Homo sapiens: one gene and its partners. The protein of the gene in region 4 interacts with the protein of the main gene of each other region in a biochemical or structural test. Each region holds a gene or a part of one and is shown on either strand. Other genes may lie near its edges. The genes, in order: BMP4, BMP2, GDF2 and BMPR2.

What was found.
Region 1: the proteins of BMPR2 (region 4) and BMP4 form a complex in vitro, tested with the Homo sapiens proteins (2 studies listed by BioGRID).
Region 2: the proteins of BMPR2 (region 4) and BMP2 form a complex in vitro, tested with the Homo sapiens proteins (4 studies listed by BioGRID and IntAct, with this or other methods).
Region 3: the proteins of BMPR2 (region 4) and GDF2 form a complex in vitro, tested with the Homo sapiens proteins (2 studies listed by BioGRID).

What each region holds. Positions count from the first base shown.
Region 1 is NC_000014.9:53,952,806-53,962,090, forward strand, and holds the start of BMP4 (bone morphogenetic protein 4 isoform a preproprotein), read right to left. Parts: upstream 4,021-9,285; 5' UTR 4,016-4,020; coding exon of another isoform or gene 3,954-4,015; 5' UTR 3,745-3,953; intron 3,524-3,744; coding exon of another isoform or gene 3,096-3,523; exon of another isoform or gene 1,377-3,095; intron 596-1,376; coding exon of another isoform or gene 471-595; intron 1-470. Other genes in the region: uncharacterized protein LOC124903317, read left to right, coding at 3,096-3,523, 9,056-9,104.
Region 2 is NC_000020.11:6,769,792-6,779,009, reverse strand, and holds part of BMP2 (bone morphogenetic protein 2 preproprotein), read right to left. Parts: intron 8,891-9,218; 5' UTR 8,884-8,890; coding exon 8,538-8,883; intron 766-8,537; coding exon 1-765. UniProt on the Homo sapiens protein: Growth factor of the TGF-beta superfamily that plays essential roles in many developmental processes, including cardiogenesis, neurogenesis, and osteogenesis. Induces cartilage and bone formation.
Region 3 is NC_000010.11:47,324,378-47,329,230, reverse strand, and holds the end of GDF2 (growth/differentiation factor 2 preproprotein), read right to left. Parts: intron 4,391-4,853; coding exon 3,447-4,390; 3' UTR 1,643-3,446; downstream 1-1,642. UniProt on the Homo sapiens protein: Potent circulating inhibitor of angiogenesis. Signals through the type I activin receptor ACVRL1 but not other Alks. Signaling through SMAD1 in endothelial cells requires TGF-beta coreceptor endoglin/ENG.
Region 4 is NC_000002.12:202,553,316-202,562,533, forward strand, and holds part of BMPR2 (bone morphogenetic protein receptor type-2 precursor), read left to right. Parts: intron 1-1,936; coding exon 1,937-3,216; intron 3,217-6,380; coding exon 6,381-6,631; 3' UTR 6,632-9,218. UniProt on the Homo sapiens protein: On ligand binding, forms a receptor complex consisting of two type II and two type I transmembrane serine/threonine kinases.

The DNA of each region.
Region 1 (9,285 bases), on a different chromosome or scaffold from region 4:
AGGGCTTATTTTATTGTGGCCGATGAGTTTGAAATATTCAGCCAAAAGTGCCTGATCGTGCCCGCTCATCCCCAGGGAAGGGGTGAGAGACGATTCCGGAGAGACCTCTGTGAGTTTTGACAAGAGAGTGGGAACGCGCCACGGAGACACTGGGGGCTCTCCCAGACAAGTTGGATAGGGGAAGGGAGTGGTTAGCCCTCAAGGTACAACCCCGGGCTTTCATCTCTTTAGCTCCCTCGCGCTCCCCTTTCTTGCAACGCTGAGAGGGCGAGTGCGCGCTAGCAGCACTTTAAAAGGAACCCGTACGCTTCCAGCGCCCCGGCTGCCGGGCCAAGAAGGGAGCGACAGTGCTGCCAGGGAGCAGAGTGTGGATATTGTAAAGGAGGTCCGACGGAAGGGACAGCCGGCGAGCAGGGGTGGTGAGGGCAGAGTGAATTCCGGGGAGGGGGAAGGAAGAGGTGTCTACTCACTGACAGAAAACAAGGCATATAATAACAGTCCATGATTCTTGACAGCCAATCTTGAACAAACTTGCTGGAAAGGCTCAGGGAAGCTGCAGCAGTGCGTTGCTCGGGATGGCACTACGGAATGGCTCCTAAAAGGAATATTTGAATATAATGAGACTCCACCGCAGACAGGCTCTGTTTTTCTTCCAGCCCCTCGGAGTCACGTGAGCGCCGAGGCCCCTCCCGCGGCAGGCGGCGAAAGGGCTTGCGCGCCCTCCCCTCCTCCACAGCCCCCCGCCCCTCGCGGGCCCGCCCCTCCAGGCGAGGCCAACCTCCGCGCCCGCCGCCCGAGCCTCAGCGGTCCGGGAGGAGCTCCCGGCGGCGCTCGGCAGAGCCCTCGGCCGGTGCCCCGCGGCCGCCGCGCTCCCAGGGCTACTGGCGCAGCGCACGGAGAACCCGGTTCTCGGCGCGGTGCGTCGTGCTGGGCCCCCGCGCCGGGCCACCTGAAGCCAGAGGATTTGGGGCGCACTGAAGGGACTGCGTCTCCCAGCTCGAACCCGGCTTAAGTGGGGCCGGGAGCGAGGTCGGGAAAGTCTCACCCGCCCAAAGCCTCACCACCGAGAGGCACTTAAAAAGGAAAGCGCAGAGGGACCCTGCCCACGCGCGTGTACACACACACCCCCCCACACACACACAAGCAAACACGAGCTCCCCGCCACTTCCTCCCCAGGGTCTCCTCAAGGCCAAATATTGCTCCCAATGACAGCCAGTCACCCCTTGGCGAACGCCTGCTAAGGCTCCGAAGAGCCGGGCCACCGATCTAGCTCCCGGCTGAAAGCAGCCGACCTTGTCACGCGCGGGGCCGGGAATGGGAGGGAGGGTGTTAGAGGGTGATCGCTGTGGGAAAGTGAGAGGGAGCGGCTGTTAGTCATTGCTCCGGGTCCATTACCGAGAATCCCCAAACCTAGTCCGCCGCTGCGTGGCCCCTCTCCCCATGCAAAGCAGACCCCCGAAGAAGCCATGCCAGGCTGAGGGACAGACGCCGGGGCTCGAAGCTCCGGGCAGATTCAGAAAGAGGCGTCGCTGCAGAAAGGACGCATCACAGTTTTCAGATCTTAATGTGGCCGAGGTTTTACAACTCCCGACCCGGCGCAGAAAGGAAATCCCACCATGTTCCCCGGAGTCGAGAAAACGGTGAACAGCTTTCGGCCTGCGCTCGACCTCTGCGTCTGCGTCTCTCTCGCCTCGGCTTCCCTTATTTTTTAAACCACCACCACACTCCTTCCCCCGCCACTTCCTTCCCCCACCCCCTTCCTCCGTTGCACCAGCAGCAGAGTCGCACGCAGCAAATACTCCTTCAAGAATTTTACCTACCTACAGTTCAAGCAGTTACTGGGATGTCCTGACTAATCGAAGATGCTGCCGCGCGCGTGGGTCGCTCTGCGCAAGGGCCTCTTCGAAAACCCGACTAGGCGCAACTCAGCGTTCAGCAGGGCCGGGAGCGCCAGGTCGTCCCCGGGGCCCGGGCCCCATGACTCCTGCCCCAAAGCCCACTCCACCCGACCTCCCTTTCCTGAGGCTGTTCCCAGTTGCTGCTTTGGGTCGCTCCGGAGCTCAAGAACTCGGGTTGCCTGCCGCCCCACTCTCCACGCACATACTTGGTTTTCTTCTTAGGGGCATTGGCAGGTAGACTTTGAGGAAGAAAAGTAAAGGATCGAACAGCTCAGCCCTCCCTCCCGACCGTGGATGCCCGGAGTCGACCAACACCTCAGGTCCGGGTGCGGAGGCCGCGGGCGCCCCTGCGCGACCGTCCGCGCCCGGCAAGAGCCGCGCGGCTTTCGCCTTTGCTGGTCCCGCGCCACCGCTGGGGCGGGCTGCGAAAGGGTTGGGAAGAGCAAAGGGTTTTTTTGTTTTGTTTTGAGACGCAGAAGCCCTTTAAAAAGCCCGGCGAGGAGAGGTCCAGAAGTAGAGAAAGCAGACGGAGGCAAGCTGTGCCCGCGGGGCAAAGGGACAGTAGAAGGGGCGGGCGCCCGGGTTCCCCGGAAAACCCTCGGCCCCAAGGAATCTCCTGGGGCGGGAGAGCGCGGTTCTAAAACCGAGAGGATAGGAAGGGGAAGGGGGAGTTGTGTTTCAATTTCGGATTCACCAGGATTCATCTCTAGTCACATTTTTCTTCTCAAATTTTTAAATCGAAAAGATAAAAGCCAAAAGAACTTTCATCCCCAGAGCTTTTTATTGGGGGAAAGGAATGTAACTCGGGGTGGTTGTCCTTCACTTCCCTACTCGAATCTTCTCCTAATGCCGAAATGTGTTTACAGGTAGCCTCAGTTTACCAAGTATGTATCTTTTGGGGGTTTAACCTCTCACAAAGCCTTCAACTCACAAACCGCGATCCTTGGAAACCATCCTCCAAAGCAGTGCTTGGAGGCCTCTAAGGCCCCCGGACCAACTCCCGCTGGAAGAAGCCTGCAGGGACTCGGGAATCACGGGAACCTTTCCCGTCGGTTCCGGGCCTGGAGGGCCAGGAAGAGCCGCGCGTCCGCCTTTCGTCCCGCCAGGAACTCCCCATAGGACACGACACCGCAGGAACAAGCGTCCTGGGAGCCCCTGGGATCTTGGCTGTCGTCTCTAGGGACCCTACACCGTGAAATGATAGAGGCGAGGTTCCTTGGGTTCCGCAAGTCGACGAAAATAGCTCGTGGAGAAGGCGCGTCCTGCAACTGCAGTTCGCAAGCTCTCAGGGCGCCCCGCCAGCTGGGGGCCAGATTGGGTGACACTCCCCTCGACGCAGCCTCCGGAGCGGCGCGCACTCTCCAGAGGCCAGCAGGACTGCGCTCTCTACCGCAGAACCTGCTCCAGCTAGGTGTTCTCTCCCCATCTCGCCGTCGCTCTGCCCCCTCACTCTCTCTGGACCTCAGAGCCGGTTCTCTCCTTCCTCCTCCCGCGCTTTCCGTCCGGGGATCGCAACCTCCAGCCCGTGGGCAACGCGTTCAGCCCAAGACCCCACAGTTTTTCCCAACGACCCCCCTACCAAGGGCTTCTCTTGTTTCTGCTCTCCTGCCCCGCACTTCCCAAAGGTGAGAATCTCCCAGGGACTGCTGGACAGAGAAGGCCTGGGCAGGGGCAGTAGCCGATATTTAAAGGTCTTTCAGCGCCAGCATCCCCACCTCCAGCACCACTATTGGAAAATAATTAGGCCACCTTTTGCCTCGGTCACAGCCTGTGACCAGCTTCTTCCCCCCAAGGAGGCTCCTAGACCCCCTCTGCCTGTCTCCCCTCACCAGGTAGCCTTGCTCACCATAGGTCCCTGCAGTAGCGGGCTCGCCAGCAGCAGCTCCTGGGGACCTCTGAACGGTTGCAGTGAACCTGGGCGAGGGCCGGGGACTGTGGCGCTGCAGGCTCGAGATAGCTTGGACGGGAATCCCATCGGGGAGACAAGCTAGATACTCAGCCGGAGCAGCAGCGGCGTCTCAGGCTCGCGTCCCTCAGCTCGGATGCCACACTCACCTAGCTTCCGGGCCGGGCTCCGCGCTCCTTCCCTCCCTCCCTCCTCCTCTGCCTTCTCGCATCTTCCTTCCTCCTCTTTCCCTCCCTCGCTTTCTTTCTTTCCTTCCTCCTCCTCTTCCCCGGCGGCCCCTCCCTCCTTCCCTCCTCCCTCGCTCGCCTCCCTTTCTGGGGATGGGAGCCCCGCCCACATCCTCCCCTCCAGCCGCCCGACCTCGCCTAGCAGGCCCGGGTCCCGGAAGCCCAGGCAGCGCCCGAGTCCGCAGCTGCCGTCGGAGCTGGGACGCCGCTGCCTCCAGCTCTGGGAAGCGGCTGGGGCTCACCTGGGGACCACGTGCGGAGGTACTAGAAAGCATGCACCGACTAGTCGCCGTACCTTCCAAAAATACCCATGGGAGTCTGGGCTTCCCTGAGTTTAGTGTAACTGCTGCCCAAACTGATGATTAAAACACTGAGTAATCACCATTTACCCTGAGTAATTAGAGATAATGAAACACCTCTAAAATCAGGTTATGGAGAAAGGAGCTGTTGGATCGGTTTAAAAGGTGGCCTTCCATAAACTGTTAAAAGATTTCCAAACGTTGAGAAACAGGCTGTGTGCAGAACTGTGTGCCAGAGAGAGATACCTCTTGGGCTGTTAAAAGGTGAATTTCCTTCCAAAACATTCTTAAAGTGCGTTTTGTAGAACACCTTGGTGATGACCCTGAGGTAGACCCCAGTAAATGAGCTCACTTCCCTCCTCCCCCCAAGGCCTAAAGACAGAGGTGGCCTGCAGACAGGCTGGGGCCACGTTTTTTACAGTTAGAAAAATCTGTTTCTAGCTCAGAAGCCGTCTTAAGAACCGACACAGCAGTTATTTTTGTTGGTGTTATGGTTGTTGTTGATTTTTTTGTTCATTTTTGGTGTACCTAAGAGTCCTGACACTCTGTCTTTCCAAGGAGATAACCACAGAAGCAGTAACCTTTTAGGCCACAGGGAGACAAGAAAAGATGCCCCTTGGTCTGTTTTTAAAGGAAGAGGGGAGATGAGGAATTGGCCCTTTCATATAAAAACATTTTAGTAATCATATTAGCAGGGAGGTGGAATGTGGTGGCTTTTAAACCTTCCCAAACAGGAACTAATTTCACACACTGCCTCTGATGGAGCTGTGAGGGAGCTATCAGCCTCATCTCTCTGTTTTACAAACAAGGAAAGGCAGGACTACCAGGTTAAAGGGACTTGCCCAGATCTCTGAAGTAAATCACAGCCTCTGCTCCAGAGCTAATGCTTCAGGGAGGGGTTGAGGCTCATAGCCTGAGCTCCAGGTAGCCAGAGGAGTGCTGGAAGACTGAGCATTTCCTGTCCTGGATTTCTTTCCCTGGGACAGACATGACACTTTACTGTCTCTGCAAAGCATTTAGGTCTTTACTTAAACAGATATTGGCCCTGGGTGGCTCATCTATAAAAACTTTACGTTTATACACCTTCGATATTTAAAAAACAAGAACTACTTCCTGTGTGGAACACAGATTACAAAGGGTGGGAAATATCTGAGATCAGAGAAGCAACTGTCAGAGCAAGGCCAAGACATCCTGCCATCTTTTCCATCTATTAGGCCTAGGTCTTTTGGCCTAATGCACCAAACAACAGAAACAAGCTGTATGGCTTTGGGCAAGTCTTTTCATTCCTATGAGTCTCAGTTTTCTCATCTGCAGAATGAAAGGATTGGGCCAGATCATCTGCATGCTCCCTTTATATTTGAAAATGATTTGATTATTTAATTGTAATTTTAGCCAAAGTCCGTCTTCCTTCATTTTAAGTCACTCCTGAGTTCACTTTCTCTAAGAACCACTGATTAAAACAGGGCAGGGCAATAACACCACCCCAAAAGGAGGACAAAATATACCTGTAGCTTCCAAATAGTCAAAATCACAATTAATTATTAAAAATAATAACAGAAAATTAAAACTCCATTAAATAGTTACCTAATGTTTCTCCTGCAGCATCAGGCATTGTGCTCCTTTAGCATGGTACCTGAAGTCAGGACAGATTAAATGCTCACTGAGCCCCTAAATCAATCACTGTTGTTTTAATCATTAACGAAATGTGGTTCTTAATATTTAAACTCAGAAACAACAGTGATATGCTGGACTTAAAGGCAGGACTTTATTTTACTTTAAAGCACCAATGTCATTTCGGGGTTTTTTTAATTCCAAAGGTTTTTGAATGACAGCTATTGTCTCATTTTGCTGCAGCCCAGACACTAAAGTGGCCACTGATTGGCCCATCCATGAGTCTGTGACACTCACAGTCCAGGAGTTTCCAATTAAGCTACCCGACATACCATGTTTAGACCCCTGATATGAATCTTCAGATATATGACGAGAGAACTCAGCTTTAGTTCTCTTGGGACAGCTTTATTTCTCTCCCCACATTTTAGATGGGCGCAAGCCATCTGTTATCAGCTGCTTTTACCCACTCCTCCTTTTCCCCCCTTACTCATGCCAAAGAACAAATTACTTGTTGGTTAGAGAGCTAAATCAACCACAGCCTAGTGATCAGAGTTCGTGAGAAGAATCAGTTTAGTTATTTTCTGTATCTCAAACTTACCTGTGAATTTTCATGTTTTTATAGAACATGGTAGATAGACCAAATGAAACTGTACCCTTAAAGCACATTGATGAAGAGGGGAAACCCACCATAATTCAGGAGCAACTATTGCTCCTATGCTGCTACTACTCAATGAAAGGCATTCCTTTGTTGGGTTTTTCCTGGAGAACATCAAGAAAGAGTAGCTGGTCAATAGCCTGTCTGCGAGCCCTTGGGACAGCCTTTTTCAAAGCATGTTCTCAGGACTATAAGCCTCAGAGTAGGGTGGGGGTGCAGATGAAATGCAGACTTCCTGGTCCTGCCCCAGATCTGGACCCAGAAATCTGTATATTTCACAAGGTTCTCTGGTCATTCTGAGCACACTAAAGCTTGAGAGCTACTGTTTTAAAAGTTATTTTGTTTCCATTTTCTATGCTGATAAGTACCATTAAAAGGCTGATACCAAGACATCATTAAACAGGCAAAGAATATGCTGGGCTTGAACTTTATAAACTGTTAAATATGGCAATTATAGTATCACTATGCCCTGAACACACCAAATAGGTCTATGCAAGTGAAAAGATAATCCTATAGATACAGTAGCCCTTAATTCCCCATCCCCAATTAAGAACCACATCAGGTCTTCAAACCTTCTTGGCCAATTAGGTGTCTGGTGAAGCTACGGAAGGAATTCCCAGAATCACTGCTAAGTTTTGAGAAGCAGTAAGATAGATCAATTGGAATTGGAATTCGAATTCGAATTGGAATTGGAAGTGGTCTCTGAAATTGGCTAGAAATTTAGTTTTCCTCTTATTAATATTTATCATATCTTATATATTTGCCCTATATATCTCTAGCCCTTACAACAACCCTTATAAAATCCCTGTCCTACAGATGAGAATCTGAAGTTTAGAGACGTTATGTAAGTTGCTCAAGGTCACAAAGCTAGAAAGTGGTGGACCCCAAGTCCAAACCATGTCAGTCTGTCTCCTCTCCCTGGGCAAGTGAGGGGTATTGTGGATGGATCCCCGAGGCTTATCCTGGAAGCTTTCCCCAGGCCAAGGCACCAGCTGCTGCTCCATCCTGGCAGCATGCTATTACCAGGAATTTCAGGATATCTTCCCAAGTTCTTAGATAACAAAACAAAATCAAGACCTAGAAGTTTGTTTCTTCCTGACGTTACTATATAAGCCCGCCTTAGGGCAAGACTTTTATGTGACCTTTCCTGAGAAAAAGGTTATGATCTTGAGAAAGGAGCTCATTATCTCTGCTGGGTCCAAGTTTCCTCATTGTAAAATGTGGAGCTTGAACAGGGTCCTCACAGGTCTTTCTCAGGCTCTGGAATACAGAGACAATATATCCTGGTAGTTAAAATCACAGTCAAATTGCTTAATCTCCAATGTCCACTCATTATGCTTTGTCTATATAGATCTGACCCATGAACATAGCTGTGCCAAGATAACTACTCACTGTCAAAATCATACCTACTCTGAGCAATTAGTTTTTACTAATAGGCTGAGACTGAATGACATGTCCAAAAAGCATTCTCCGTCTGTTTTGCGGATTCCTAACACCTCTAACTTTTAAGAATTTTTTTTCCTGTCCCTCAAGCTAAAACATAAACTCATTTTCTTTATTCTGATCTAAAGATGAACTTTTAACCCAATTGCACAAGTTGTTCCTTCTCTAAACATTTAATATTGTTGCCAACCTTTGATATGCCTCACTCAAAGTAAATAATACTGGATGCTGATATTTTCTCATGACAAAAAGAAAATCCAATGCTATTTCAGTTCCCTATGTTTTAAATTGCTGCCTTGATACTTTCTGGAATATGGTCCTTTCTATAAAAACCCTTCAATATTAACATCCAAGCCAGGTGCGGTGGCTCACACCTGTAATCCCAGCACTTTGGGAGGCCAAGGCAGGTGGATACCGAGGTCAGGAGATCGAGACCATCCTGGCTAACATGGTGAAAACCCATCTTAACTAAAAATATAAAAAATTAGCCAGGCATGGTGGCGGGCGCCTGTAGTCCCAGCTACTCGGAAGGCTGAGGCAGGAGAATGGCGTGAACCCAGGAGGCGGAGCTTGCAGTGAGCTGAGATCACGCCACTGCACTCCAGCCTGGGCGACAGAGTGAGACTCTGTCTCAAAAACAACAACAAAAACAACAACAAACAAACAAAAATCCAAAATGGACAGAGACTTCTAAATGAACCCCCAGTGATATCAGACAGATGAAAAGACTGTTTTTATGTCATAACATGTTTAACGTGGATGGCAGACAGGGCATGGATATGAAAAGTCTTTTCTAAGGAATGATCAGGATGGGATTGGCATGCAATGACAGATATTTGGGTTTTGACTATTCTCAGCTTCCTCTCCTAAAAAAATAGTCGACTGCACTCATTTAATTCTACAACAGGGATGCTCTTTGAAAATAAATTATTTTAGAGGATATAAAAAAGATTAAACCTTGAAATTTCTTTGTTTTGTGCTCATACATCCTTCTCCTTCTCTTTTTCTGACCCCAGTGTGTGGGAACAGTGTAACCTGAACAAGAACGTAGTGTCTATAGGATGAGTGACACTTGGAAGCAGAGGCAGAGTGCTACATGGACACCTGACTGTACCAAATGGTTATTGTGTTTTCTCAATCAGACGCCAATTGCGGAATACCAGCTGATATTCTACCCTCAACTCATGCTAAAAGCTTTCTAGTCTTTCTCAAGGAAACCTGTCCAAAGGGATATGTGATCCCAGGA
Region 2 (9,218 bases), on a different chromosome or scaffold from region 4:
TCGAGATAGCACTGAGTTCTGTCGGGACACAGCATGCCTTAGGAATCTTAGAGTTAACAGAGTTGACCAACGTCTGAACAATGGCATGATTAGTGGAGTTCAGATGATCAGCCAGAGGAAAAGGGCATTCTCCGTGGCAGTAAAAGGCGTGATACCCCGGGGGAGCCACAATCCAGTCATTCCACCCCACGTCACTGAAGTCCACGTACAAAGGGTGTCTCTTACAGCTGGACTTAAGGCGTTTCCGCTGTTTGTGTTTGGCTTGACGTTTTTCTCTTTTGTGGAGAGGATGCCCTTTTCCATCATGGCCAAAAGTTACTAGCAATGGCCTTATCTGTGACCAGCTGTGTTCATCTTGGTGCAAAGACCTGCTTATCCTAACATGTCTCTTGGAGACACCTTGTTTCTCCTCCAAGTGGGCCACTTCCACCACGAATCCATGGTTGGCGTGTCCCTGTGCAGTCCACCGCATCACAGCGGGGGTGACATCAAAACTTTCCCACCTGCTTGCATTCTGATTCACCAACCTGGTGTCCAAAAGTCTGGTCACGGGGAATTTCGAGTTGGCTGTTGCAGGTTTTATGATTTCATAAATATTAATTCGGTGATGGAAACTGCTATTGTTTCCTAAAGCATCTTGCATCTGTTCTCGGAAAACCTGAAGCTCTGCTGAGGTGATAAACTCCTCCGTGGGGATAGAACTTAAATTAAAGAAGAATCTCCGGGTTGTTTTCCCACTCGTTTCTGGTAGTTCTTCCAAAGATTCTAATTTGATAGAGAAAAACAGGGAAGAAAAAAGAAAAGTCTGAATTTCAGTAAGCCAAGTAATGACGTTTGATTATCTATGAGAATTTTTAAACCTCATCGTGGGATTTGATGTAACCCATGTAAAAGTAGGTAACCAGAAAATAAAAATTTCCTCTTTAAATAAACATGGAGCCTCCCTTCTCTCTGTTCTGTAAGTTCATGTCATCATGCATTGCATACCAGGAAACAACCTTTCATAATTCTTTGTTGTGTTTTTGATCTAATACATGAATACTGCTTCCAGGTGGCTATAATAATGGGGGAAATGGTGAAGCATTTCTTTGGAATTCCAGACTTTAGGGTAAAAAAAAAAAAAAGTCAGCACTATAGTTAGTAGAGGTCTAATGAGTGAGGATTTGAGGAAATTATTGCATTTCTTTTTTAAAAAAGGCTTTAATGCCAATCCCTTAAGCAGTATTCTAAAACATTACTCTGCAATTTAGATGATTTACAAATCTCGATATACAGATTTCAGCTTCCTAATTAAAGACTCTGAAACTCAACATCAACGATGACATTTTGCAAAGCACACCCTACTATTTTACTCAAAAGTCCAGAGACAAAGGCATTTACAGGGATCTACTTCTTTGGAAACGTATGGGTGGTACTAGGACACTGTAGTAATTAAGGCCAAACAATTTCAAGAGAAATAGCTTTCCCAACTGTTGTCTGTTCTCTCACCTCTTTATGACCTCAAATATCAAAATCTCATTTTAGATGCTTTTGGAAGAAAAATAAATGACCTGTCTTCTGTTTGCAATGCCTTTATAGTTTTGAAAGATAAACCATGTTAAAAAACCATGTACCTACCCAGTAATAGTGTGCAGGATGGACACAAAACCAAAAAAATAATAAAAATTTACAAAAATATGATTATGATCTCCATGACAAAAGGAACAGTCTCATCCTATTACAGAATAATCCTTCTATATCCACTATCATTATTTCAAAATAGCCATTTAAGTGGGCCATGCACAAAAGCTTTGTCTGATTTAAAATTTCTGAATTTCAATTTTTAAGAAGTATTATTCTCCAAGCAAGTAATATATAACACAGCACCTTGAATGCTTGTAGTCTGCAAATCATCAAAGGTACAACATTATTATTAAACTGGTAGTATATACCATGAGAGTTTGAGACATTTAAGTTTATTTTATTCTAACTTTACCACATCCTATCATTTCACTGCCAACAGAATTTGCCTGCTTCATTCAGAATTCCTACCCAAGTGCTAACAAAATCTATTTTGCCATCGTTCCATGTTATCATAAGAAGAGACTATGTTTTTATTAATTTTACAGTTGTATTTCCCCTAAAGACAAACAGCTGTAAGTTGTGCACTGAATCTAGATGCCTTAGCAAAGGAGAATCATGTCAGATCACTCACTCAAAGGATCTACCCGTGTAAGCCTTCATCATCAAAGCAACAGTCATCATGCAAGCTAAGTGGACACACCAAGTTCAGTCAGGGCAGTTTATACCAAACTAACGCTTTAATGCAGTGCTTTTCAAACTTCAGCCTTCACATAAAACAGCTTGTACACCGTAAAGCTTCAGATGCAGGCTCTGATTCAGTAGGTCTGGGGAGATGCTTGAGATTCAGCATTTCTAGCAGCTCCTCAAGGAGGGGATTCTGGGAACTGTAAGACCACACTTGGAGTGTCAAGGTTTTGCAGCATGTTTTTCATATTCCAGTATAGATTGCCAGGAGTGCATTTTTAAAGTGCCTTTTTGTTAAATAATATAAAAACTAGTAGAAGAACCATTAGTGGTGGCAAAGGAGTAAGAGTTGAATGGGCCAGCTCTGGGTGGGCCCAGCCAGGGTCTCAGAACAGAAGGTTCTTCTAAAGCTCTTCTACGTGGATATGGGGAGTATCAGGCCAATAGAGTCCTTTAGGGTTCCCTTGTGCCTATTAATCCAAACCTCTGGGGAATACCTTTCAGGATCCATCCACATTCTAAACTCCACTGGAAGCTAATGGTACTTTAGGCCAGACACAATCATTAAAATAACCTTCTGACCATTTGAACCTGGACTCTTCTCAGTGGCTCCCAAGGAGTACCAAGGACTGTGTTTGGCCTGTTTTTTTCTCCTTCTCCTTGCAATTCAGACGTTTCTGCTGAAGGTAATTTTTCAGCAGAGAAGGTAAAAGTCAGCAACCTCAGACCCCAATGACACCAAAGCCAGACCAGCACCTGAGCTACTGGCTTATCTGATAAGAATACATCTAAGAACACCCTCTTTTCTTTCAAAGAGGGGGAGGCAAGGAAAATTATCTAGAGCACTCGCTGACTAGCTATATTAACAAAAGTGCCCAGAGAAATCACAATTGCAAGAAAAACCCTAAATCCCAATGCATAAAGAAACATACATTCTCACACATTCTCTCTCTCGCACACACGTACACACCCACATGGCCAGACGATGACAGTGAAGGGACAAGCTACAAGTCAAGTATGAGGGACAGGTAAATGAAGTAAAGAAGATGGGTATAAAAAAGGTATGAAATAGAATAATAACCTCCCAAAAAATTAAATGACAAGATTGAATCATACAAAATTGCCACTATTTGACCAGAAACACAGACAACAACAATTTCATGTGGTTCAAGGTCTCAGTGGAAGTAGGCAGCCTTAGCAAAGGAGAATCAGTTAGTGGCCTTAAGAAAGGAGAAAAAATAGACGAGCAAATAATAATAGGCGATACGAAGATCTTTCTCTGACCTTCCCACTGCACCTCAGTGAATCTGTTTCTTGAAAGGTCCCATCCTCAAGACAAAAGCATCCATTGCAACACCCCTGGTTGCAGAAACAGGTCACAGAGGTAAGTTAGACGTTCACAGAAACCCTCAAACCCAGGAAAGTAACTGGCCAAGGTTAGGGAATATACGCTCATTTTCTTTAATCTGCCAGGGAAGAGTACGAATCTTTTCTTAAGGGTACAAAAATTAAAACCTATTTGAAATAAAGTAAATTAAATAAACAAACCTTCTATAAATCATCACAGCAACCCTGAGGATGCCAAAAATATATGGATCCTCAAGTAATGTATGCTTTTTTGGAGACTTATACAATTGCTAGTTTTCTGTAAATATCCCTTCCTGAATAAGCTGAAGTTCTTAAGGGATTTGAGGATTTCGACCTGTCTTTGACCCGAGTTTGTGAGCTTCTAAGTTCTTAACCAAATGGATGGAGCTATGGCTGCAAAAATGTGGGAAAGTGAAGAAAAATAAGACAACAATGATATCTGAACTTTTCTCCAAAAGTGAAGTCCTAATTTAATAATCTATACTATATCAATCATTCCTCTACCTCAAAATAATTCAAAAGACTGAGCTGAATTCTCTCAGTCAGCCTAGGTCCACTCTGGCCTCCTTTTCCCTAGAGAAGGAAAGGCTATAACATTAACAAAAGAAGTCATAATGATAATGACAGCTGAATGCTTTTTTTGAGTGTAATCTGGCACCATCAGCTTTATATGAATTATCTCACAACAAACCAATTAGAGAAAAACTATCATTATCTCCATTTTGTAAATGAAACAGTTGCAGTTCAGAGAGGTTATGTAACTTTCCTAAGGTCACAGAGCTAGCAAATTAAAAGTAGATATATATAATTGAATCTACTGCGCTTCTCAGGTTTCTTGTCTTTTGTTTTGTTTTGTTTCTTGTTTTTGTGACACAGGGTCTCACTCTGTTGCCCAGGCTGGAGTGCAGTGGCACAATCTTGGCTCACAGCAGCCTCCACCTCCCAGGTTCAAGCAGTCCTCCCATCTCAGCCTCCCAATTAGCTCGGATTACAGGCATGGGCCATCATACCTGGCTATTTTTTTATATTTTAGTAGAGATGTGGTTTCACCATGTTGGCCAGGCTGGTCTGGAACTCCTGACCTCAAGTGATCCACCCACCTAAGCCTCCCAAAGTGCTGGGATTACAGGTATTAGCCATCATGCCCAGCCAGTTCCCAAATTTCTGGCTACTAGATGGCACTACCTAACATACATGAGGACTCAAAAACTTAAGCAAAAGTCAAAACCATTAGGGGCACATTTATATTTAGTACAATGATAACATTGGGTGAGTTCTGTCCCAACTAAATGAACAGAAATATATGACTTAGGTATGATGGACAGAACAGACAGAAATGAGCAGAAAAGTGACGGGGCCCACTGGAATGTGTCTATTTTATAAGGAGCCACTGCTATTTTGTGGCTGCCCTTTTGTTCTAAATAAAGTATGGTAAGTTTTATCAAAAAAGTAAGTTACCGTTATGCTTCGAGGATTTTAAAACACACTTTGGGCTAAAAAATCTCCAGTAAAACAACAACAACAACAACAAAACCTGGGGATATGCTGGCAATCAGTAAGGCTGGAAGTCACTGCCCTAACACAAAATGAAAGAGGCTGAGTATAATATAAGATTTTCCAGATAATAAAATAACAGACAACTGATCAAGGAGAAAAAAAATATCAAATACAAAAGGTTAAAAACATTCCATTTTAAAAAAAATACAACAAGGGAATGGCAAATAAAGGAATAGAGAGCATGGTTGTCATCAACAACCCTGATTTGGCCTCTGCCCACCCTTAACACCAACACCTTCGGAATGATGAAATATTCTCTTATTGTCTCAGTGAAAATACACAAAGAGCAAGTCTAAGAACGCAAAATAGTTCACTGCAAAGGGATTAAGAGAAATTTAGGGGAACCACTAAAAAACAGGTGGAACGGAAAATGTCAGTGCCAAGGAAGTATCACTGGACACCAAAGCCTCAATCTCAACAACCATTTCCAAATAGAGTAATTTTCCTACTTAATGTGGCCTCTGTAATGACAATGAAATACCTGGGGCCACTAGGGAACCATACCAGGTAAGTATTGGTTTTGGTGGATCTATGTGTCCAAATCTGTTGTTTGCACGGGGGAATTTGTGCCACAAAGTCTCTAATGCAGGGCAATAGTTATTTCTTGAACTTTTCTATTATATGGATATTTTCATAATAATTATATTTGTGGAAAGAGGGTTAATCTCTATTTGAAAGCTTCAGTCACAGAGGCAAATAATCCAGTTATTTCATGTAGAAAGAAGACTGTGTCCTTCAGAGTGAGGAGAACAAGAAGCACCTGGTCTTTCTCTCTCCCATCTGACAAAAAAGCATAAAGACTTTTTGGAGGGCCAGTGAAGTCAACCAGTTTCAATGTGTTTCCAACTACAGCAATACACAAAACACTCTTTCCACTTGCAGAACTGACTTTTCTATGTTCAATGGCAGTTTCCAAAGGTCTATGTAGCTGAAGCACTTTTTAATGATCTTGAAAACAATAACATTTTAGCAAAGCTGATATTCTCCCAAATAAAAGCCACTGGAGAAAGGACTAGACAAAATTCAATAGGAAAAATACAACTGATAATTCTGTCTCAGATCCCCTATGATATGGTCGCATTATACTCATATTGGTTGAAAGAATGCTATCATGATATCTCGTCGAGTAATTCCACCAAACCATTCGATCACACCTACAAAGAAAACCCAACAGGTAATTCTTATGATTGGGTCTTTATGGTCTTTTTTCAAATAAATGCTCATTAATGCTGTAGAAACTAAATTCTGTTCTTGAGCCAGCAACCTTCATCACATGGTTTACCAAAAACTTTTTTCGTGGCATGCATGGCACAAGGATGTTTATCAAAAGCAAATCCTGGGTGTATACAACAATGATTAGTCTTGAAAAAAGTGCTATATCCATCCAGATTAAGGATGATATATTAGTCATAATGAGACAAGAAATGGATTAGTTGAAATTTGGGGCAAAATTACATAGCTTTTCTCCATTATCTAACTGCATTAAGACCTGAAGTTATTACAAGTTGATTTTAATCAAGTTGGTCACTTCTGTACTGTTTCTCAGGTAACATTTACACTCACAAAGATATAAATTCTGATTTTATAAACTCAAGCATGCTTTTTAAGTTAAAATAACACAGTTGAATAACGTGTAGCCTGTTTAGTTCTGATCAAACCACTTCTAGATGAATGATGAGAATATGCAGACATCACTGATAAAATCCTCACACAATGGAATGTTTTAGGTGTTAACTAACTTAAATGATCTTCCTTTTAAGTTGTAACAGAGACACAGCATCTTCCAGGCCTTAAAAATAAAGTTGAGAGCTTCCATGCTAAATTTCCAGAAGAGGTGTCTAAAACAGTTGTTCTTATTACATTCCTATACAAAAAAAAAAGTATTCTAATCAGCATTACCTGGGAATGATTAGCTGGATCTATAATCATTTCAGGGTTAAGATGGCAGAATGTACACATACACACAAATTTTACATATGACAACAGGTGATTTCTGCTTTCATTGGATGAATTCTGAAAGAGTGGAGTGAGATCTTACTGCCTTTCAAATCTGATTTCTGCTAGCAGAGAGCACCTCACTTAGAAATGTGCTTGTAAATGAACTGATGATCAATTCAGTGTCCCCGTCGTAATGTGTAGCTGCCTCAATGAGAACGTATCTTCTGCTATGTGGCTTGCCTTTGGGACTTATTCCCATTACCAACAAATACTCTCACAAGTATAAGTCACCCTTCACACTGGGAGAAAACATCTGGAAGTGCCATTTCCCATTAGTCTATTATCAGTGTAAATTTCCCACTTGAAATTTACCACCTAAGCAGGGAAAGGCAAGAAAGAGAACTTCACTCCCAACTCCCCAAATATCTGCCAAGTGGTTGCTCTGTGATATACACTTTTGTACTCTTTTCTAGGAATTGAAGAAACCCATGCTCTATTTTAAATGTATTAAGCCAAAGAAGCATTTAAAAGTGTAGAAAAAGAATTGAAGTGGAACATATTTTTGACTAATTGCTCTAAGAACTTAGGTACAGCAGACCTCAATAGCTGCTGTAAGACATTTCCAGTCCACTAAATGCCCTTCTGATGAAACAAGCAGAAATATCCCACCTTAGAAAAACCACATGTAGTATCATAAAAGAAAAAAAAATCCACATTTCGGTGCACATGAAAAAAAAACAGGCAGCTGCTACAAACGCTTTTATCTGAAGGCTTGCCTTGTCTCTACTCAGAGCCTATCTCAGATTTAAGCACAGGACAAGAAAGTCATTGTGGAAACAATAAGATTGATTGTAGTATTGATCTCCCACGGGGATTAGATTGGGATTCAAAATCTTCCAAACCAGGCCCAGATCAACTATAAATTAGAAAGACTTTGGGGCCCTGGGCTTTGATTTTTCAATACTATCTCTGAAAACTCTGCCCTTGGCTCTGTCTACCCTAAAACCCTGGCTTAAGCGGCAGATTTATAGAGCAAAAGCTTCCAAACAGACTTAAAGAAATCTCAATCTGCCTCCCTTTTTCTCCTTTTCCCTCTGTGGAATTCTTGCACGTTTAGCTGACTAGAGGCATGCCTTTTGCCCTCATCTTCCCCATCACTTGATTTCTCTCCAATTCTTCCAGGAGGAGTAGCTCTTCTGGCTGCAAGCCAGGAAGAGGGTGCGGAGTTACTAAAGGGGAATCCCTGGCTCCCCCACCACACAAGCAGTGAGTTAAAATCAGATTCAGAAACGATAGTACAGAAGCAAGAGTGGAAACGTCCGCTGGTGCCCCGGCCAAGCTGCCTCTACAGGGACGGCTGCAGTCTGCCCACGGTGGAGGGCTTTGCAGGGTGACTCCCCGCCCCCACGCCCTGCTCCATGCCTCACCTTCATGGTGGAAGCTGCGCACAGTGTTGGCTCGGCTGGCTGCCCTCTCCAACCGGTGGTCTGGGGCGGGTGAGCCCGGCTGACCTGAGTGCCTGCGATACAGGTCTAGCATGTAGGGGGGCACCACGGCGTCCCTGCTGGGGGTGGGTCTCTGTTTCAGGCCGAACATGCTGAGCAGCCGCAACTCGAACTCGCTCAGGACCTCGTCAGAGGGCTGGGATGAGGGGCGGCCCGACGACGCCGCCGCGAACTTCCTGCGGCCCAGCTCCGGAACGAGGCCAGCCGCGCCGCCCAGGAGGACCTGGGGAAGCAGCAACGCTAGAAGACAGCGGGTCCCGGCCACCATGGTCGACCTGCGGACAGGACCGACGTGAGTCACCCGAGTTCCCCGCCCAGTCCTCCCCCCTCGCGCCCCCGCGGCCCGGTCTCCCATTTGGCTGGCGTGCCTCCTCCAGGATGCCCTCCTGGCTTGGCACACTCACGAGTCTAGGTAAGACCGACCGAAGCTCAAACGTTTGGGATAATGAAGGGTCCCAAGTTCCTGAACCAGATGATTTATCGCTCCCATCCAACGCTTAGCTCGTCTGACATCAGATTTGGGATTTGCCCTCCCCCCCAACCAAACCAGCGCCAATGACTGTCACTTTTTTGTGTGTGACACAGCGCTGACAGCCAATGCCG
Region 3 (4,853 bases), on a different chromosome or scaffold from region 4:
CAGGGTGCACACACCACATCACTCACCCCAGTGTGCACACACTGCATCACTCACCCCAGTGTGCACACACATCACTCATCCCCCTCAGTGTGCACACACCACATCACTCACCCCAATGTGCACACACCGCATCACTCACCCCCTCAGTGTGCACACACCGCATCACTCACCCCAGGGTGCACACACCGCATCACTCACCCCAGGGTGCACACACCACATCACTCACCCCCCTCAGTGTGCACACACCACGTCACTCACCCCAGTGTGCACACACCACATCACTCACCCCAGTGTGCACACACCACGTCACTCACCCCCCTCAGTGTGCACACACCACATCACTCACCCCAGTGTGCACACACCGCATCACTCACCCCAGGGTGCACACACTGAATCACTCACCCCCGTGTGCACACACATCACTCACCCCAGTGTGCACATCACATCACTCACTCCAGTGTGCACACACCGCATCACTCACCCCAGGGTGCACACACATCACTCACCCCAGTGTGCACATCACATCACTCACCCCAGGGTGCACACACATCACTCACCCCAGGGTGCACACACATCACTCGCCCCAGTGTGCACACACATCACTCACCCCAGGGTGTACACACATCACTTACCCCAGTGTGCACACACATCACTCACCCCAGCGTGCACACAGATCACTCATCCCAGTGTGCACACACATCACTCACCCCAGCGTGCACATCACATCACTCATACCAGCGTGCACATCACATCACTCACCCCAATGTGTGCACACATGACTCACTCCAGTGTGCACACATCACTCACCCCAGTGTGCACACACCACATCACTCACCCCAGTGTGCACACACATCACTCACCCCAGTGTGCACACACATTACCCCAGTGTGCACACACTGCATCACTCACCCCAGTGTGCACACACATCATTCACCCCAATGTGCACACACCACATCACTCACCCCAGGGTGCACACACATCACTCACCCCAGTGTGCACACACATCACTCATTCCAGTGTGCACTTCACATCACTCACCCCAATGTGTGCACACATCACTCACACCAGTGTGCACACACACCACTCACCCCAGTGTGCACACACATCACTCACTCCAGTGTGCACACACATTACTCACCCCAATGTGTGCACACATCACTCACCCCAGTGTGCACACACATCACTCACTCCAGTGTGCACACACATCACTCCAGTGTGCACATCACGTCACTCACCCCAATGTGTGCACACATCACTCACACCAGTGTGCACATCACATCACTCACCCCAGTGTGCACACACATCACTCACCCCAGTGCGCACACACATCACTCACTGCAGTGTGCACACATATTACCCCAGTGTGCACACACTGCATCACTCACTCCAGTGTGCACACACATTACTCACCCCAGTGTGCAAACACATCACTCACCCCAATGTGCACACACCACATCACTCACCCCAGTGTGCAGACACCACCCACCTGCATCCACCCAGTCCTGAGATGGCTGCCTGCCCCTCCCCTCTGCCTCCTTAGGAAGGGGAGGCCCAACCCAGTGGGGTCTGGAGGGTGGGGTAGGCAGGGTATGAGTCTATAGGGTCCTCCAGATTGGGTCTCACATTCAGGAGGGGCTGCAAATTAGACATTTGACTTTATTTCCGAGTGAAATTTTCAAGCAGGCACAGAAGCACACCACCAGGACTGAAAGAAGATGCTCAACACCCAACTTGGAATAGCATTGTAACACTACACTGCCCGGCATGTAGCAGGAATTCATATTTTCTATAACGCCAGTAATTAAACAAGAATGTTTCGTTGTATTTGTGTGTTAAAGTTGTTCATTGGTTCCATGTAAACATTTAACATAACGTTTTCCCCACCCCCCACTTTTTCTTAAATAAATGGGAGCTTCAACCACGGGGAGAGGCCCTGGCCTCTCTAAGCCTCCCCTAGGCCCTGCTCTGGCTGGAGGTCAGAGGGCCATAGGTGCACTCTTCACCACTTTCAGACTCTTCCTCATACCGCCCCGTTCCATGTGTGGCCTGGAGAGACAGAGGAGAGGGTGAAACACAGAGCAAATGGAAGCCTTATCTTCCCTTGTGTTCGGGGAGGCTGAGTCTGGTCCCACAGTCCGAGCCCAGGCGGGGTGCTGGGATGCACGTGACTCAAGAGAGCCGGCAAATGCAGGCAGAGCCAGTGATAGCCGATAAGGACTGCAGCTCTTCCGAGGCTGGAGAGGCCTCGCCCAGGAAGGCTGGAGTCTTGTCACTTAAGGACATGTCACCAAGGAATAAAAATAGATATGTTTCAAAGACCAAAGCCAGAGCACATTTAATTCCAACAAATTCAAATCCAGGCCCGTCTCCCATGAGGTTGTCACTGGGGGGCACCCTGGGCATGGCATGCTGGTGAGCTGGCTATGCAGAGTAACTGCAGAGGTGCTGGCCACAGGCTGCCCCATCCCTCAGGGGAAAGTGTGCCCGGCCCTCTCAAATGGTCACATGGTTTCAGTCTATGGACAGTGAATGGCCCTGTGTGCACCACTGGCCGTGGGAGCACTGCACCAGGGGGTCACAATAACTCCAGCCACAGTGTATCATGCAGCCCACAGGGCTGCTGTCCTGACCTCTCTCTCTATCCTGCAGTTGGCCTGGGGTTATTTTTCAGTGCCTCAGGGGTCATATTAAAAAGCATGTGGCCGCTGAGTGAGCACTGGCAACAGTGGCCAGACCACGCCCTGTGTGTGACAAGCAGCCCAGTCACACCTGTGACTGATGGGCCTCAGCCTGGCCTGGCCTCAACACTCCTGGGCTCCCAATGTCTCACTGCTCTTTAGCTGGAGAGGACCTGCTAAACTGCAGCAGGGCACTTGGGAAGATCCTGGGCTTTGGTGTCCCACAAATCTGAGTTGGAATCATGCCATTGATCAATGCTACTTGATCTGCCTGTGTTTTATGTCTCTAAATTGGAAGCCATGCCCCTCCAACTGGGTTGTGGGAAATAACATACAATGATGGGTGTGACACGCGGCCTGCTCCTTCCCTCTACTCCCCAAGGGTTTTGGAGCGAGCTGGCCTCCTCCACCTCTCTAACTTCCATCAGTCTCTGCAGTGACCTGCCCGCCTGTGCTCCTCTGGCTCACTGCTGTTGTTTTCTGCTGACTATGGATTATTTTTCCCCCTGTCTCCTTTTCATCACCTCCTTGCATCCCAACAACCCTCCCAGGCTTTCCTGTTGTGCTCAAATCCCCATTTCCTTAGCCTTCCCTGGCAGTTGAGCTCAGCGGTGTATGCTTTGGGTGGGGTGTGGGGAGGGAGAGCAGGCTCCCTTTCCTCCTCCAGGCTGGCATGCAGATTGAATCAGTCCTTGTTGTGCCCAGGGGCATGCAGGACCTCTCATGTGGAGCCCCTTTGGCCTGCCTCCCCAGCCCCGCAGGCAGATACTACCTGCACCCACACTCTGCCACGCTCATGCCCTCGTAATGGTACTTGAGGGTGGGCACCCCCATGTCATCCTTGTAGAGGACGGAGATGGGGCTCAGTTTGGTGGGCACACAGCAGGCCTTGCCCACCTTTGTGGGGAACTTGAGATGCACCAGGGTCTGCACGATAGCGTGTTTCGTCGGCGTCACATCGTCAGCCAAGGGGAAGAAGCAGCCGCCCTTACACTCGTAGGCTTCATACTCCTTGGGTGCAATGATCCAGCTGTCCCAGCCGATGTCCTCGAAGTTTACCCGCAGGGAGGTCTTTTGACAGTGGCTGCCAGCCCCGGCGCTCCTTTTCCGCCTGGCTAAAGTCGACCCCGCAGCCACGTGGCCATCCGTGTCCTCCTCGTGACTGCTCTCACCTGCCTCTGTGGAGCCGTCCTTGGACAGCTTCTTGAGCACGCTCTCTTGTTCATGGCTGATCATCTCCCTCAGCTCCAGCCTGGTCTCCTTGGTCCCACTGCTGTGGTCATTGGAGAAGACAACAAAGAAGGGCAGGTTTCTGGAACCTGGGGGGACACTGATGTCCAGCGTGTCGCAGCCCTTCCTGTGGCTCTCCACAGTCACTTCCAGCTTATTTTTGCTCTTGGTGGAGTCGGACCGGACCCAGCGCTTCACGGCGCTGGACACTTCCAAGGTCTCCCAGCCCTCATCCTGAATGTCCTGGGACACCAGGAAGGTCTTGGTCTCTGTAGCACTATCCCAGGCATCTGTTCCATCCAGAACATCATAAATGACCACGCTTCCTTTCAGGTCATGAGAGGGGTCCACGTGATTTTGACAGGAGACATAGAGTCGGAGCTCAGCTCTGGTGATCTGCTCATGCCTAGGAATGGAGATGTTGAAGAGCAAGATGTGCTTCTGGAAGGGGAAGTCCTCTGTGGCAGTTATGGAGATGGCATCTGAAATGCAAACACACGTGGTGGGCATCTGCTGGAGGGTCTGTTTCCATGACACTGAAGCTGAGTCTCAGGGTTTAGACAGAAGAGCATCTGGGATAACAATTTTGGTCTGTATTATCTCTATTTGGTTTCACCCAAGCCCTTAAAGTATAAGAGTATTTTGAAAGGTACACTTAAGATCTTCCAAAGGAGATGCCTCCAATTGGGATTGAGAGTTCCTACTGTTTATCGAGCATCTACTATGTGCCAGGCATTACACTGGGAGCTTTGCAGAATACATTTCACCTTAATCCTCTCACTTACCCTGGGAGGATCTAATTATTATTCCACATTTGCAGATGTGGAGACTGGGATTCAAGGCAGTTAATTGCCAAAATGCATACAGCTAGTTAAGTATTCTGGGACTTACTAGCACACAGCTATTGAGTACATAAAGAAAACAGAAAAACTCACTGTCAGATCC
Region 4 (9,218 bases):
AGGTTTGTAGACTTCCTATCTAATGCTCTTTCTTATAGAATATACTACTACTACTTTTATATGAAAGCAATTCAAAGGTCTTTCTGTTCCATCATTAATATTATTTTACAAGACATTTTCTTTGTTAGAACTATGATTTTTGGTTCTAAATAGAAAGGCTTTTTAAAAATTCCTACAATTTGGAACTTTCTACATCTGTATTTCTTTTTTCCATGTTTGGGGTAAAAAAGCCTTTCTATGACTTTGTCATTTTGTCTAATACATGTTTAAAACTTTCAGAAAGGCATCCAGGAAAGGGTTACTGGAGAAAATTGAAATAAAAATAAACTCGATTCTTGAAACTTTTTTTTTTTCTGTGTGGTTTTTGTTTTTTTTTGTTTGTTTGTTTTTGGAAACTGTGTCTTACTCTGTCCCCCAGGCTGGAGTGCAGTGGCGTGATCCTGGCTCACTGCAACCTCTGCCTCCCAGGTTTAAGCGATTCTCCTGCCTCGGCCTCCCGAGTAGCTGAGATTACAGTCACGAGCCACCACGCCCAGCTAATTTTGTATATTTATTAGAGACAGGGTTTCACCATGTTAGCCAGACTGGTCTCAAACTCCCGACCCCTGGTGATCTGCCTGCCTTGGCCTCCCAAAATGCTGGGATTATAGGCGACAGGTGTGAGCCACCGTGCCCGGCCTATTTTCTGTTCTAATTTGTGAAAGCTATTTGTATTAGCCATAGGTGAAAAATTTGGTTTGCACTACTTTTGTATAGGTCAAATTAGTTTCAAATATAAACTCTTATACCTTGTATATCAGCAAATCAAGAAAGTTAGACACTGGCAATTCTAATTATAAATTTTCTCACTTTACACATACCTGAGGACAGTCTTCTGCTTTTATCTCCCCTCATCTCTGTATTTCCCATGTCCTCTAGTATGATGTTTTTACCTCTCTCAAAAGTCAGCTAAAGCTTTTATTTTGAATGCTTTCAAACTTTTCTTGAATGGTAAGAAAAAAAAACCTTGATGGCCCACCTTGATTTGGCCACTTTTCGCCTCCTGTGTCATTCGGCTCAACCTTCTGCATGCATCTTCTCATCTCCAGTCTCTACTAATAATTTCCTCAAAATTATAATTCATCCCATAGTTACGCTAACTCTAGGTTTTATTTTCCTGAGTCTTACCCTCCATGTCTCCTTAGCTTCCTTTTCTTGTACTGTATAACAATTTTTTTTTCTTCTTTTCCTTCTATCATCTCCCTTATAAATAACTGTCACTCCCAAGGAATGACAATGACAGCAAAGAACCCATGATAATTGGAGAGCAGTTCTGAATCTTTGATCCTTTATTTGAACATCATATTCTGCCTTATACCTTAGGCTCAAGGACTTTTACTGATATGACTCAGACTACCCCAGAAAGATATGTGCCATTACTAGGGCATGCCTCTTAATGGAGGCCTTTGGAACAACCTAAAAGCTTATATTCTTTTTACTATTTGGCCATTGGAACTTAATTGATAACATACCTTTTGAGTAGGCACTATGCATCTAGAATTATGGAAATACAGAAAACATATACCATGGTTCTTCCTCTCATAAAACATAACGTCTGGTTGTATGAATATACATTCCATAAATATATATTTCATGATGTTATAAAACTATAGGGGAGATTTTTTAATTAACTTATAAACCAAAATAATGAACATTTATAAAAATTATATCTCATCCACATACATTTTTCAGTAGGCTTAATTCACATAAAACTAACACTTATCAAGTTATTAATTGACACTTGATTATTTGATTAGACTTTTTAACCTTTAGAAAAATGTACGTTTGGAAGAAAATGAAAAACAACTCAGACTTTAAAATCAGAGGTGTTAAATTTGGAGAGACAGTTTGTCATAAATGTACGTTCTCAATGTGATACTTTTTTTCTTTCTTTAAGCAACCTGTCACATAATAGGCGTGTGCCAAAAATTGGTCCTTATCCAGATTATTCTTCCTCCTCATACATTGAAGACTCTATCCATCATACTGACAGCATCGTGAAGAATATTTCCTCTGAGCATTCTATGTCCAGCACACCTTTGACTATAGGGGAAAAAAACCGAAATTCAATTAACTATGAACGACAGCAAGCACAAGCTCGAATCCCCAGCCCTGAAACAAGTGTCACCAGCCTCTCCACCAACACAACAACCACAAACACCACAGGACTCACGCCAAGTACTGGCATGACTACTATATCTGAGATGCCATACCCAGATGAAACAAATCTGCATACCACAAATGTTGCACAGTCAATTGGGCCAACCCCTGTCTGCTTACAGCTGACAGAAGAAGACTTGGAAACCAACAAGCTAGACCCAAAAGAAGTTGATAAGAACCTCAAGGAAAGCTCTGATGAGAATCTCATGGAGCACTCTCTTAAACAGTTCAGTGGCCCAGACCCACTGAGCAGTACTAGTTCTAGCTTGCTTTACCCACTCATAAAACTTGCAGTAGAAGCAACTGGACAGCAGGACTTCACACAGACTGCAAATGGCCAAGCATGTTTGATTCCTGATGTTCTGCCTACTCAGATCTATCCTCTCCCCAAGCAGCAGAACCTTCCCAAGAGACCTACTAGTTTGCCTTTGAACACCAAAAATTCAACAAAAGAGCCCCGGCTAAAATTTGGCAGCAAGCACAAATCAAACTTGAAACAAGTCGAAACTGGAGTTGCCAAGATGAATACAATCAATGCAGCAGAACCTCATGTGGTGACAGTCACCATGAATGGTGTGGCAGGTAGAAACCACAGTGTTAACTCCCATGCTGCCACAACCCAATATGCCAATGGGACAGTACTATCTGGCCAAACAACCAACATAGTGACACATAGGGCCCAAGAAATGTTGCAGAATCAGTTTATTGGTGAGGACACCCGGCTGAATATTAATTCCAGTCCTGATGAGCATGAGCCTTTACTGAGACGAGAGCAACAAGCTGGCCATGATGAAGGTGTTCTGGATCGTCTTGTGGACAGGAGGGAACGGCCACTAGAAGGTGGCCGAACTAATTCCAATAACAACAACAGCAATCCATGTTCAGAACAAGATGTTCTTGCACAGGGTGTTCCAAGCACAGCAGCAGATCCTGGGCCATCAAAGCCCAGAAGAGCACAGAGGCCTAATTCTCTGGATCTTTCAGCCACAAATGTCCTGGATGGCAGCAGTATACAGAGTAAGTGGAGGGATCATATAATCTCTCCTGTGTGTCTTTTGGGGCCATTTAAATAACTATTTAGAATCAACTAATAGATATATTTCAACTAGTGATTATTTACCTTTACCACTTTTGTAAATGATCCATTTGAGGCGGGGCACAGTGGCTCACACCTGTAATCCTAGCACTTTGGGAGGCCAAGGGAGGTGGATCACCTGAGGTCAGGAGTTCAAGACCAACCTGGCCAACATGGCGAAACCCCATCTCTACTAAAAAATAAAAAAAATTAGGCCAGGCGCGGTGGCTCACGCCTGTAATCCCAGCACTTTGGGAGGCCAAGGCGGGCAGATTACTTGAGATCAGGAGTTCAAGACCAGCCTGGCCAACATGGTGAAACCCCATCTCTAAAAAATACAAAAATTAGCCAGGCGTGGTGGCGTGCACCTGTAATCCCAGCCGAGATCACGACACTTCACTCTAGCCTGGGCAAAAAAGTGAAACTCCATCTCAATAATGAAATAAAATAAACCATTTGGGCCAGGCGTGGTGGCTCATGCCTATAATTCCAGCACTTTGTGAGGCCAGGGCAGGTGGATCACCTGAGGTCAGGAGTTCGAGACCAGCCTGACCAACATGGTGAAACCCCGTCTCTACTAAAAATGCAAAAATGGCCAGGCACAGTGGCTCATGCCTATAACCCAGCACTTTGGGAGGCTGAGGCAGGTGGATCACGAGGTCAAGAGTTCAAGATCAGCCTGGCCAAGGTGGTGAAACCCCTGTGTCTACTAAAAATACAAAAAATTAGCCGCGTGTGGTGGTGGGCACCTGTAATCCCAGCTACTCGGAAGGCTGAGGCAGAGAATTGCTTGAACCCAGGAGGCGGAGGTTGCAATGAGCCGAGACTATGCCACTGCACTCCAGCCTGGGTGACAGAATGAAACTCTGTCTCAAACACACACACACACACACACACACACACACACACACACACACACACACACAAATTAGCTGGGTGTGGTGGTGCCCACCTGTAATCCCAGCTACTTGGGAAGCTGAGGCAGGAGAATCGCCTTAACCCAGGAGGCGGAGGTTGCAGTGAGCTGAGATTGCGCCATTGTACTCCAGCCTGGGCAGCAAGAGCGAAACTCCATCTCAGGAAAAAAAATAAATAAGCCATTTGGTTGGGCCTCAAAGGTAATTAGACTATTGTAAAGAAAAAAGTAATATTTTTGTCATTGATAATTAAAAAGTCAGTGTCACAATAGTCAGAATAATTACCCAATTTAATATGTGCTTTATGTGGCTGCTGCTTTATAATGCAACTCACATACTTGCTATGAAAAGTTGAAATAAAGTAAATACAGTTCAAGAGCTCCAAGTAATGTTATACCAGTATAATCTTTGAAACATTTTATTGCATATATTAATATTGATTATGTCTGCATTTAGGTTTTATCAAACTAACCTTAATAAATCTTAAAGATCCAGAGAAATTTTGGGAAAATTACTATAAAGAAACTGTAGGCTAGGCACGGTGGCTCACGCCTGTAATCCCAGTGCTGTGGAAGACTGAGGTGGGTGGGTCACTTGAGGCCAGGAGTTCAAGACTAGCCTGGGCAACATAGCAAAACTCCATCTCTACAAAAAATTTAAAACTTAGTTTGGTGTGGTGGTCTGCAACCTCTGCCTCCCGGGTTCAAGTGATTCTCCTGCCTCAGCCTCCCGAGTAGCTGGGATTACAGACATGTGCCACCATGCCCTGCTAATTATTGTATTTTAGTAAAGGAGGGGTTTCGCCATGTTGGCCAGGCTGGTCTCGAACACTGGACTTCAGGTGATCCACCCACCTCAGTGTCCCACAGTGCTGGCATTACAGGCGTGAACCACTGCGCCCAGCCTATTTCTCTTTTAGACTAAGGCATTTATGAAAAAAAGTTATGTTTTATTGTCAAGGGCTACAAAATGGGCTTGAAGGAAGGATACAGGTCTCAAAACACAATCAGGAAAATTTAGCCCCTTGCTTGAGTGGCTTGTATTACAGATCAGTTGACAGACCTTTATTGCAGGGCTCTGAGTCAGTAAGACATCGTGTCAGATAGGCCAGGCATGGTGGCTTACGCCTGTAATCCCAGCACTTTGGGAGGCTGAGGCGGGCGGATCACCTGAGGTCGGGAGTTCGAGACCAACCTGACCAACATGGAGAAACCCGGTCTCTACTAAAAATACAAAAGTAGCCAGACGTGGTGGCACATGCCTGTAATCCCAGATACTTGGGAGGCTGAGGCAGGTGACTTGCTTGAACCTGGGAGGCAGAGGTTGCGGTGAGCCGAGATCATGTCATTGCACTCCAGCCTGGCAACAAGAATGAAACTCCATCTCAAAAAAAAAAAAAAAAAAATCTTGTCAGATATAGGAAGAGGAAATTATTAGAATGTTTGTACTCTAATATTTCTGTTATTCTTCTGAAAAATATTGTATGCCAGGTGCCTTTAAAATTTGATCCAGGCTGGGCATGGTGGCTCACACCTGTAATCCCAGCACTTAGGGAGGCTGAGTCGGGCACATTGCCTGAGCTCAGGAGTTTGAGACCACCCTCGGCAAGATGGTGAAACCCCCCGTCTCTACTAAAATACAAAAAATTAGCTGGTCATGGTGGCATGCGCCTGTAGTCCCGGCTACTTGAGAGGCTGAGGCGTGAGAATCACTTGAGCCCGGGAAACAGAGGTTGCAGTGAGTCAAGATCATGCCACTGCACTCCAGCCTGGGCTACAGAGTGAGACTCCATCCCCCAAAAAAAAAAAAAAAATTTGATCCACCTTGAGCATTAAATACAATTAAATACAATAATTAAGTACATTTTACCAAGTTAAGATCGCTACCAAAACCAGAAGATTTGAGAATACAGCTGAGAAGTTTAAATGTTCTCCTGTGTTTTGTGTGTGTGTGTTTTCCCTTGCCTTATAAAATAAGTCAATCAGTTATTAAAACATTTGGGTTAAAGAGTCTCAAAAATAAGTTGGTTAAGCTTTTCCTGGAAAAACATTGTCTGGCATTATGAATTTCAAGAAATGTTCATTAGCACCCTCCTGAGACATTGGTTTGACCTTTTCTTGAGTTACATCCCTTACCCGTTATTTCTTAAGTTTGTTAAATAGCTCATTTTTCTGCACTTTTATTTTCAGTAGGTGAGTCAACACAAGATGGCAAATCAGGATCAGGTGAAAAGATCAAGAAACGTGTGAAAACTCCCTATTCTCTTAAGCGGTGGCGCCCCTCCACCTGGGTCATCTCCACTGAATCGCTGGACTGTGAAGTCAACAATAATGGCAGTAACAGGGCAGTTCATTCCAAATCCAGCACTGCTGTTTACCTTGCAGAAGGAGGCACTGCTACAACCATGGTGTCTAAAGATATAGGAATGAACTGTCTGTGAAATGTTTTCAAGCCTATGGAGTGAAATTATTTTTTGCATCATTTAAACATGCAGAAGATGTTTAAAAATAAAAAAAAAACTGCTTTATCCTCCTGTCAGCACCCCCTCCCACCCCTGCAACAAAGACTTGCTTTAAATAGATTTCAGCTATGCAGAAAAATTTAGCTTATGCTTCCATATTTTTAAATTTTGTTTTTTAAGTTTTGCACTTTTGTTTAGTCTCGCTAAAGTTATATTTGTCTGTTATGACCACAGAGTTATATGTGTGTGTATCAAAAGTGGTCTCAAAATATTTTTTTAAGAAAAAAAGCAAAAACAATGTATTGCTGATAATCAGTTTGGACCAGTTTCTTAAGGTCATTAAAACAGAAGCAAATTAAGACAGGTTTGACTGCAGTGGTGTCTGGTATCCATGTTTTATTTCTGGGCACAAGCTAGTTTTTATGTTGATACGTTCCTGAACATATTATCTTGTTGGACATCTTTTCTCTTGTGTTTTGTTTGAATGTGCAATAGTTTATAGGCCACAAATAAGCTTTCTTGTAAGCTCTCTTCCTAACAGGGCACATATTCTTCCATAATATAAACACTTTTCTGCCCCATCTCCCATACTTTTGAAGGTCAGTTCTATGACAGTGAATTTTGCACAGGAGAAGCAGCTACCTGATTTCTTACTTTCTCTCTCCTTATCATGGAGAATACAGAAACATTGTCTGAAAGGGCTCTAAAGAAGGAACTACCAAAACCTGACTTGAAATGCCATTTCTTTTAACCTTCCAAATCCTAAATGTTTCCTTCAAGGCATCTTAATAAACTTATTTGCTTCTGGTTTTGGGAGTTCATAAGAGAGAATAGAACAAAATACAGGACATCAAATATTAGCCATTTCCCATTTTATTTTATTTTTCTATGTAGGTTCATGTTCCATGTTCATTTATTTAAGAAATACATTTTTATTGGTAAGCTTATAGAGCTACACTTATGGAATTTTTAAGTAGGTAAATAAATGGTTAAGACAAAATAGTGTTATAGCCTTCATTCTCTGAATAGGCCATCTTTGACTCATAAAATTACCCTTACTGTTTATTATAACTTCAGAAGTAATTTATAGTTCTGAACCTATAGTATCTTTTACCCTGTTCCCAAGCAAAGACTGGTGACTTTATCTGAAAATGATTCCTCTTCCCATGACCTAAAACACTGTGAGGAAAAATCATTCAAGTGGCATGCCAAGTCCCTATGAAGGAAGGGCTGCTATCAAACCTACCTTTTTTGAGCAAACTGAGACTAAACTTCTCTCTTTTCAAAATTGTGTTATCTTCCTTAATCCTATTTTCATAATTTTTCCTTTTGCCAGTTTTTCACATTATCTTTGATATGTGAGCAACATTTATTATTTACATTAGAGTATACCTTTTAGTAATAAAATGACTTGAAATCATATTATTTTTAAAAGCCCTTTGCTTCTTTCATTACTTATAATCTCCTCTAAAACAACCTCTGCATGTTTTTTTTAAATAAAGCACTTTCTGTCAAATAATGGACTTTTTTCTAAACAGAAATTATTTTCTATTAATTTGCAAACTGATGATTTCACTTTTTTTTACTTTTTTTTCGATTATCAGAGTACTTAGTAAATGTTATATAGTTTAGTTCTAAGATAGTTCCAGGGATTAAAAGGTTAAGAGGAAAACACAAATCACCAAATTTCTGATTTATGTTTTTATCTCCTGAACAATATTTTCTCACTCATATTCCTCTATCTTATCACTTAGCTAAAGACAGCCTAAATTTCCCAATTTTCTGTCCAAAATATTTGTGATTTACTTGTATATAAGCCTTCTCATTTGCCATGTGCTGTGATCTTACAAGTTAGATGTTACTATACCTACCATTTATTCAGCTGGATTGCTGAACACAGTTCTGGATTCATAGAATTAAGAATATCTTGTTAGTGCCCAGGATTTCCACGTTTTGTGTTTTATTGGCCCTTTTCTTTATTCAGCCCCTTAATCTATTTTCAGTCTTCTGGCACGTAATTTTTTTCACAGTTATTATTCTTCTATTAACAAATTATTTTTATCTTTCCTAGTACATTTTCACTTAGTTCTCTTGCCCTTAAATATCTTTCACATGCATTTTAGGATATTCTTTTCAAATATTTGTAGGACAACTTTGAATCAAAATAAATTATGTTCCTTCTCCAATTTGAAGCATTGAGGATAAATGACCATTTGAGGTCTAACTGATCTTTTCCTGCCAGAAGAGTTATCTTACGTTCTGCTATATTTGTATTTGGGCCAGTTGATTGTAGGTTGTCCAACATTTTTTAATATTGGGAAAATTATGATAAAATGCTTTAAAAATTAATATGCCAGATTAAAATAACTGAATAGTTTACTATTTCATTCAAGCATGTTTAAAACAAATAATTTCCTTTCACCAGTTTTTCTTAGTAAACTCCTGAAAAAGTAGGAAAGGTGGAAAGTATATATCATTTTTATAAATTTTAAATTGTACATCAGACTTTTAAAATCTGTAATATACAAGCAAGCAAAATTATTTTAAATGACTTAATTGTATGCTA